2 linked regions of the Homo sapiens genome follow. The protein of the gene in region 1 purifies or fractionates together with the protein of each later gene. This does not show direct contact. Each region holds a gene or a part of one and is shown in the gene's direction. Other genes may lie near its edges. The genes, in order: RAB40A and LYRM7.

What was found.
Region 2: the proteins of RAB40A (region 1) and LYRM7 purify together in Homo sapiens (affinity purification with mass spectrometry, with the first as the bait; one large-scale study listed by BioGRID). This does not show direct contact.

What each region holds. Positions count from the first base shown.
Region 1 is NC_000023.11:103,498,630-103,502,812, reverse strand, and holds the end of RAB40A (ras-related protein Rab-40A), read left to right. Parts: exon of another isoform or gene 1-54; intron 55-1,910; exon of another isoform or gene 1,911-1,986; 5' UTR 1,987-2,056; coding exon 2,057-2,890; 3' UTR 2,891-3,683; downstream 3,684-4,183.
Region 2 is NC_000005.10:131,173,635-131,177,457, forward strand, and holds part of LYRM7 (complex III assembly factor LYRM7), read left to right. Parts: intron 1-3,823.

The sequences.
Region 1 (4,183 bases):
TCTATCTCACAGATAATCAAGCTCAGGCTTTCAGAGCCTAAGTCACCTTCCCAGGTAAGTGGCAGGATTGGAATGAGGTTTCATCCCTCACCCTCCCTAAAGGACCCTGAGCACCCCCTTTTAGAAGATGGGCTTCCAGGGCTTGAGAAATGTCAGATTCCACTCCCCTGCTATTGTGGCCCCATGGGTCCCCCACTCCACAACCCCTCTGGGTGATGAGGAAGACAGAAGTGAAATCCTGCACTTTATGCCAAGAGACTGGGTGTGGGACCGTATGAGTTGGCTGATCCCTTAAGTGGTGAGTGGGCTCAGGCAGAAGCTTAGGTGTTGGCCTTGGGACAGGTGAGCTGAAGAGAAGGAAAGTAACCTGCACTGAACTACTTTAGGCAAATGCACTCTATATTTCATCTCCTTTATCCTAACGGCTGTTCAAGGTACCGATGATTATGATCATTATTCCAATCAGGGTGCTGTCTTTAAGGGAGTTTGTGTAAATCAGGGAGAGAACTTTATTATCTCCTTATTGTCAGCTAAATCTGGAATTAATCTAAAGGTTTTTTTTTTCTCTATTTGCCCTGAAGCCCACAGAGAAATAGAAATGTTTTTCTTATCCTTTATTCACGTTTGTTCTGTATTGATGAGTATTTAGAATGTTTCTCATTTTTTCCTTTTTAAAAAGATTTCAGCAATGCTATTTCAAATAACCACTTACCTGGCTATTTTGGACATGTGAAAATTTTTTCCTCCATTACATTTGTAAACATCTATCCCTTGGGGCTTGATTTCAATAATTTAAACTCCCTTATATGTGTATGAGCATTCTCATTTCTTTAACCATCTTTGTACCTGTTGTAGTTACAATATTTAAGTGTATTTATAACTGATAAGTGTGTTTCCATTTCCTTGATGTATTTGGTCCCTCATCCTGCCCCCATACACAGACACACACAGAGCCTTTTTCTTTTGCATCTTTTTCTTTTGCAAATTAAAAAAAAATTCTTTTTCGGTTTTTTTCTACATTTAAATTTTGTCAGATGATAGGTGATAAAAGGATATTTAGATGGTTTCATTAGCATTCTTTAATGTATTAGTGAGCTAGAATGCATTTTCTTGTGATTACTGGCCATTTGCGTTTCTTCACCTGTGAACCATATACATATTTTTTCAGTTTTGTTATTTTGTTATAGGAGCTGTACATGTGTTAAACCTAAAACCCTTCACTGATGGATGCATGCATTATTTCAACACATCTTTGTTGGGTGAATATTATTTATGAGACACTCTAGCAAAATCCATGTCCTAGATATCTCTTCTGAGATCTTGGCTCTTATATTTATGGGAGATGTCCCCCTGCAGCAAGAAAAGTATTAGTGCCCATGTAAACATGCGTGGCTTGTCAAGGATCACATGCACAGACAGTTCACACTTACTCCTAAACCCGGCATGGCCACAGAGTAGAAAGGGTGTGTAGTGCGTTATATGAGGAGAGCACTGGCTCAGGATTGTGATTTCTGTGATCTCTATATTAATGGCAATGTTTTAAAAAATTACATAACATTTCTGAGTTTGCCTTTTCTCATTTGTAAAATGGAAACAATTATAGCTACCAAAGACAACTGTTCTGAAAGCAAAAGAACAAAATATTTTAAGCGTCATACACAGCATAGGGTACGTACAGTACTCAACACATCTTAGTCCCTTTCCTATCCCATACCCGTCCTTCCTTTAAAGGAGATTCCTTTGACATAATCCAAAAGGCATGGTTCCATAACGATCACATGAAAGTTTTAAGGGAAATGTATAGGTTTCCATGATGAATTAACTGCTGTGTCACTACTCTGTGCTGGGTAAGAAAAAGGAAAACAATCGCTGAATCAGTTTCCTAGGGTTTGTAAAAGAAATCCATCAAAGCCACCACCTCATTTCGCTTTATTTCACAGACTTCCCCATCTCATTTTTTATGTTCTATGCTAATTTCTCAAGAAGAACAGGCCCGGCACCACCTCTGCGCACAACCCCGCGGGCCTGGCTCAGGCGGGAGTGCGGGGCCAGCACCATGAGCGCCCCGGGCAGCCCCGACCAGGCCTATGACTTCCTGCTCAAGTTCCTGCTGGTGGGCGACAGGGACGTAGGCAAGAGTGAGATCCTGGAGAGCCTGCAGGATGGTGCAGCTGAGTCCCCGTACAGCCATCTCGGGGGGATCGACTACAAGACGACCACCATCCTGCTGGACGGCCAGCGGGTGAAGCTGAAGCTCTGGGATACGTCGGGGCAGGGAAGATTTTGTACCATATTCCGCTCCTACTCTCGTGGTGCACAAGGAGTGATCCTGGTCTACGACATTGCAAACCGCTGGTCTTTCGAGGGTATGGATCGATGGATTAAGAAGATTGAGGAACATGCCCCTGGTGTCCCTAAAATCCTGGTGGGGAATCGCCTACATCTGGCATTCAAGAGGCAGGTGCCCAGGGAGCAGGCCCAGGCCTACGCCGAGCGCCTGGGTGTGACCTTCTTTGAGGTCAGCCCTCTGTGCAATTTCAACATCATAGAGTCTTTCACGGAGCTGGCCAGGATAGTGCTGCTGCGGCACAGGATGAATTGGCTCGGGAGGCCGAGCAAGGTACTGAGCTTGCAAGACCTCTGCTGCCGCACCATCGTGTCCTGCACACCTGTGCATCTGGTGGACAAGCTCCCGCTCCCCAGTACCTTAAGAAGCCACCTCAAGTCCTTCTCCATGGCTAAGGGCCTGAATGCCAGGATGATGCGAGGCCTCTCCTACTCCCTCACCACCAGCTCCACTCACAAGAGCAGCCTCTGCAAAGTGGAGATCGTCTGCCCACCCCAGAGCCCACCCAAAAACTGCACCAGAAACAGCTGCAAAATTTCTTAAGGAAGGCACCAAAAGGAAACAAGCTGGAATCGCTCCAGGAAAAACTCTGGTTACACCTGGAAGATGGAAGTCGCATTGTAGATTCAAGAAATTAGTTTTCAGTTTCTCACGGGAACCATGCTGCTTGGGAATGTGTGTGATGCCTTCTGTCAATAAAAACACATTACACAGTTTGACTTTGAATTTCTATTTGGATGTGCATGAAGCTCTTGTTTTAAACGTGTGTTTATAAAGGGGAAATTAGTACTTTGCTCAACTCTTGATAACGTGAAATTTTGAATGTTACTTATATCATAATCACGCTGCAACTTTTTCCTTAAAATAACCGCCTTTGTTAGAATGGTGATATGGCAATGATGAGTATAAATTCAAGGAAATTTGAGAAGCAATGATAGTGAGATAATTCAGTCATCGATAGTACAAGAGGGGCCTTTTTGTAAACCTCCTTTTTAATGTCAAAGCACCAATTTATAAAACACTGCAGATGCATATAGAGATTGTATATAACAGATCTGTCCAGCTTGTGCATGAAATGGATTTGATAAAGTTTTTGCTATGTTATTTACTACATTTGGGGATTAATACGTGATTTATATGTATGTTTTTCTGTAAATCTACTTTTTTTGTACGAGATGTTCTACAAGATATGAAGCTAAGGGAGGAAAACACCAAAGATATCTCTAGTTATGTTGAACATAGCCAATATGGTTTCAATGGATCAATAAGAAAAAACCATTTCAGTAAGGAATGAAATACGTACTTATTTGAGAAAATGTTTCTTAACAGTAAAAAAGTATATATTTTTCTCTTTGGTAAAACGAAAAGAGAGGAAAAATATGTATAGTGTAACCCCGCAAGATGAGGCTTTGCAGAAAAACAATGCAATAGAACATGGCGGGGCAGGCCCATTATAAGGCCTTAGGTGAGTCATTTCCCCTGTGCTGGCCAGTTTTGGTTAACACCTCTCAGATCAATATAGAGGTTAATGAGATCACATCTGGGAAAGCACTTCTGAGACCTTAGATGGGAAAGAAGGAGAAGTGGTTTCCACGTAGTTACTTTCCAATTTACACTGTTGATTATTATAATAATTGATATTGGATGAACTGAGTAAATATAAGTCCTTGTACTCTTTTGTAATTGAATGACCATTTATTTGTGCATTGTCATAGGGTGATTGTAACAAAGTCCCGCAGAAGGGCAGTATCTCTGGCCTCACGGAGCTGTGGGGACTCACCCTTCCTGAACGCTGGTACTTTTCTATCTCATGAATTTCCCACAACATTCCTGGGA
Region 2 (3,823 bases), on another chromosome or scaffold:
GCTACTCAGGAGGCTGAGGCAGCAGAATCCCTTGAACCCAGGAGGCAGAGGCTGCAGTGAGCCGAGATCGCACCATTGCACTCCAGCCTGGGCAACAAGAGCAAAACTCCATCTCAAAAAATAAAAAATAAGGAAGTACATACCTTAAATAAAAAAATACTTTTTTGCTATAAAATGCTAACAATTATTTGAGCTTTCAGAAAGTTGTAATCTTTTTGCTGATGAAAGATCTTGCCTCGATGTTGATGGCTGCTAATTGATCAGATTGGTGGTTGCTAAAGGTTAAGATGACTGTGACAATTTCTTAAAATAGGACTACAGTAAAGTTGACCACATTGATTGACTCTTTCACACACAAAAGATTTATCTGTAGCATGCAATGCTGTTTGATAGCATTTTACCCACAGTAGAGCATCTTTCAAATTGGATTCAATCCTCTCAACCCCAGCCACTACTTTATCAACTGAGTTCATATAATATTCTAAATCCTTTGTTGTTATTTCAACAATGTTTACAGCATCTTCACCAGGGGTGAAGTGATGTGAGTGATGATCTTCATAAACTCAAGAATCCACTTTCTTTGCTCATTCATGAGAAGCAACTCCTCATGCATTTAAGTTTTATCGAGATTGCAGCAATTCAGTCACATCTTAAGGCTCCACTTCTTATCCTAGTTTCACTTGCACTTTCCACGTATCTGCAGTTAATTCCTCCACTGAAGTCTTGAACCCCTCGAAGTCATCCATGAGTGTTCAAATAAGTTTCTTCCAAATGCCTGTTATTGTTGCTATTTTGGCCTCCTCTCTTGAATTCTCTGAATGGCATCTGGAATGGTGAATCCTTCCCAGGAGGTTTTCAATTTACTTTGCCTAAATTCATCAGAGGAATCACTGTCTATGGCAGCTATAGCCTTATGAGTCTTTTAAATAAGACTTAGAAGTCTGGCTCACACCTCTAATCCCAGCACTATGGGAGGCTGAGGTGGGCAGATTGCTTGAGTCAGGAGTTCAAGACCAGCCTGGGCAACATGGCAAAACCTGTCTCTACAAAAAGTACAAAAATTAGCTCAATGTGTGGCATGCGCCTGTGCTCCCAGCAACTTTGGAGGCTGAGGTGGGAGGATCGCTTGAGCCCAGAAGATCGAGACTTCAGTAAGCCATGATCGTACCACTGCACTCGAGCCTGGGTGACAGAACAAGGCCCTGTCTCAAAAAAAAAGGACTTAAAAGCCAAAATTACTACTTGGCCTTGACCTGCGGGGCTGCAAAATGGATGTTGTATTGGCAGTCATGAAAACAATATTAATTTCCTTTTACATCTCCATCAGAGCTCTTGGGTGATGAGGTGTGTTGTCAGTGAGCAGTAATATTTTGAAAGGAATCTTTTTTTTTCTGAGCAGATCTCAACAGTGGGCTTAAAATATCCGCGAACCATGCTTTAAACAGATGCACTTTGTTGATTTGTAGAGCACAGGTAGAGTAGACTTAGCATAATTCTTAAGGGTCCTAGGATTTTGGAATGACAAATTATTGGCTTCAACTCAAAGTCACCAGCTTCAATCTCTTTTTTTTTTTTTTTTTTGGTGATGGAGTTTCGCTATTGTTGGCCAGGGCAGAGTGCAGTGGCGCAATCTCGGCTCACCACAACCCCTGCCTCCCAGGTTCAAGCAATTCCCCTGCCTCAGCCTCCCGAGTAGCTGGGATTGCAGGCATGCACCACCATGCCCGGCTAATTTTGTATTTTTAGTAGAGATGGGGTTTCTCCATGTTGGTCAGGCTGGTCTCAAACTCCTGACCTCAGGTGATCTGCCTGCCTTGACCTCCCAAAGTGCTAGGATTACAGGCATGAGCAACATGAGCAACCACGCTCGGCCTTTTTTGGGTGTGTTTGTTTGTTTTGTTTTGTTTTGTTTTGTTTTGAGACAGGGTCTCACTCTGTCACCCAGCCTGCAGTGCAGTGGTGTCATCTTGGCTCGCCGCAACCTCTGCCTCCCAAGCTCAAGAGATCCTCCCACCTCAGCCTCCCGAGTAGCTAGGACTACAAGCACCCTCCACCACGCCTGGCTAATTTTTTTATTTTTTGTAGATACAGGGTTTGGCCATGTTGCCCAGGCTGGTTTTGTTTTGTTTTGTTTTGTTTTGTTTGAGATGGAATCTCGATGTCACCCAGGCTGGAGTGCAGTGGCACCATCTCGGCTCACTGCAACCTCCACCTCCCAGGTTCAAGCAATTCTCCTGCCTCAACCTCCCAAGTAGCTGGGATTACAGGTGCCCACCACCACACCAGCTAATTTTTTGTATTTTTTAGTAGAGACAGGGTTTCACCATGTTGGCCAGGCTGGTCTTGAACTCCTGTGCTCAAGCGATCCACCCACCTCAGCTTCCCAAAGGGCTGAGATTACAGGCGTGAGCCACTGCATCAGCCTGCGTTAGCTTATTAAGAGCTAATTAAGCTCTTATTAATAAGGATATTTCACATTTTACTTCCCCGTTCATGAGTTCATGGACATTTAGGTTATTTCTACTTTTTCACTATTATGAATAATACTACCATGAACATTAGCATACATGTTTTTGTGTGAACATGTTTTCATTTGTCTTGAGTATATACCTAGTAGTAGAATTTCTGGGTCATAAGATAACTGTAGGTTTAACTTTTTTTAGCAACTGCCAAACTGTTTCCCAAAGCAACTGTACCATTTTAAATGCCAAACAATGTATAAGAGTTCCTATTTTTCCATGTCCTTGTCAACTCTTTTTATTGACTGTCTTTTTTACAGTAGCCATTCTACTGGGATGAAATGGTATCTCATTGAGGTTTAGATTTGTGTTTCCAGATGGCACATGACATTGAACATCTTTTTATGGCTTATTGGCCATTTATGGGTTTTTTTTTTTTTGGAAGAAATATCTATTCAAATTCTTTGACTTTTTATTTTTCTTAATTTTATTTTAGATTCAGAGAGTACATATGCAGGTTTATTACATGGGTAAATTACATAATGGTGAGGTTTGGGCTTCTAGTGAACCCATCACCCAAATAATGAATATTGTACCCAATAGGTAATTTTTCCACCCTCAACCCCTTCCTATCCTCCTCCCTTTTGGCGTCTCCCTTTTGGCGTTCTATCCACAAAGGCGTACCCTTTGCTTAGCACCTACTTATAAGTCAAAATATGCAGTATTTGATTTTCTGTTTCTGAGTTATTTCATTTAGGATAATGGTCTCCAGCAGCTGCTGCAAAGGACATGATTTCATTCTTTTTTAGTATTCTATGATGTATATATACACCACATTTTCTCATTTGTGTCCTATAAAGCAAACAGCTGCCCTCACAGTTCTACTAGCACCTAGTACTTTAACATCTTTGATGTTATTATTGCTATAAAAATTACCCACAGCTGAGCCCTTTAAGTACATTATATGATTGTCTTTTTTCCCATTTCTTCATCTTTAAATTAATAACTGCCTTTTAAAAATTATTACTTTTTAAAAATATCCTTTAATAGATATCCTAGATATCTGTTCCCAAATTCTAGGCAAAACCAGTCTACCAGTTTCATTTTTCCTTGCAATAACTTTCCTGGAGCAATTCAGTCTTTTGCTATAGTCCTGCCTAGTTGCTTTCTAGTCTGGCTGCACAAATGTTGACTAGCATTTGTCCTTCCCCATGGTCTTTGCCTCTCCCATGTTAGACTACCTGTCTCCTGGGTTCCCATGTCTTTTCCTTTTGTGATTCATTTCCTTATTTTGGTGGAGGATATTCTTCTGTAGCTTTCCAATAAAGTGTGTATGACAGATAAGAGACTTTGCATTTCTGAAA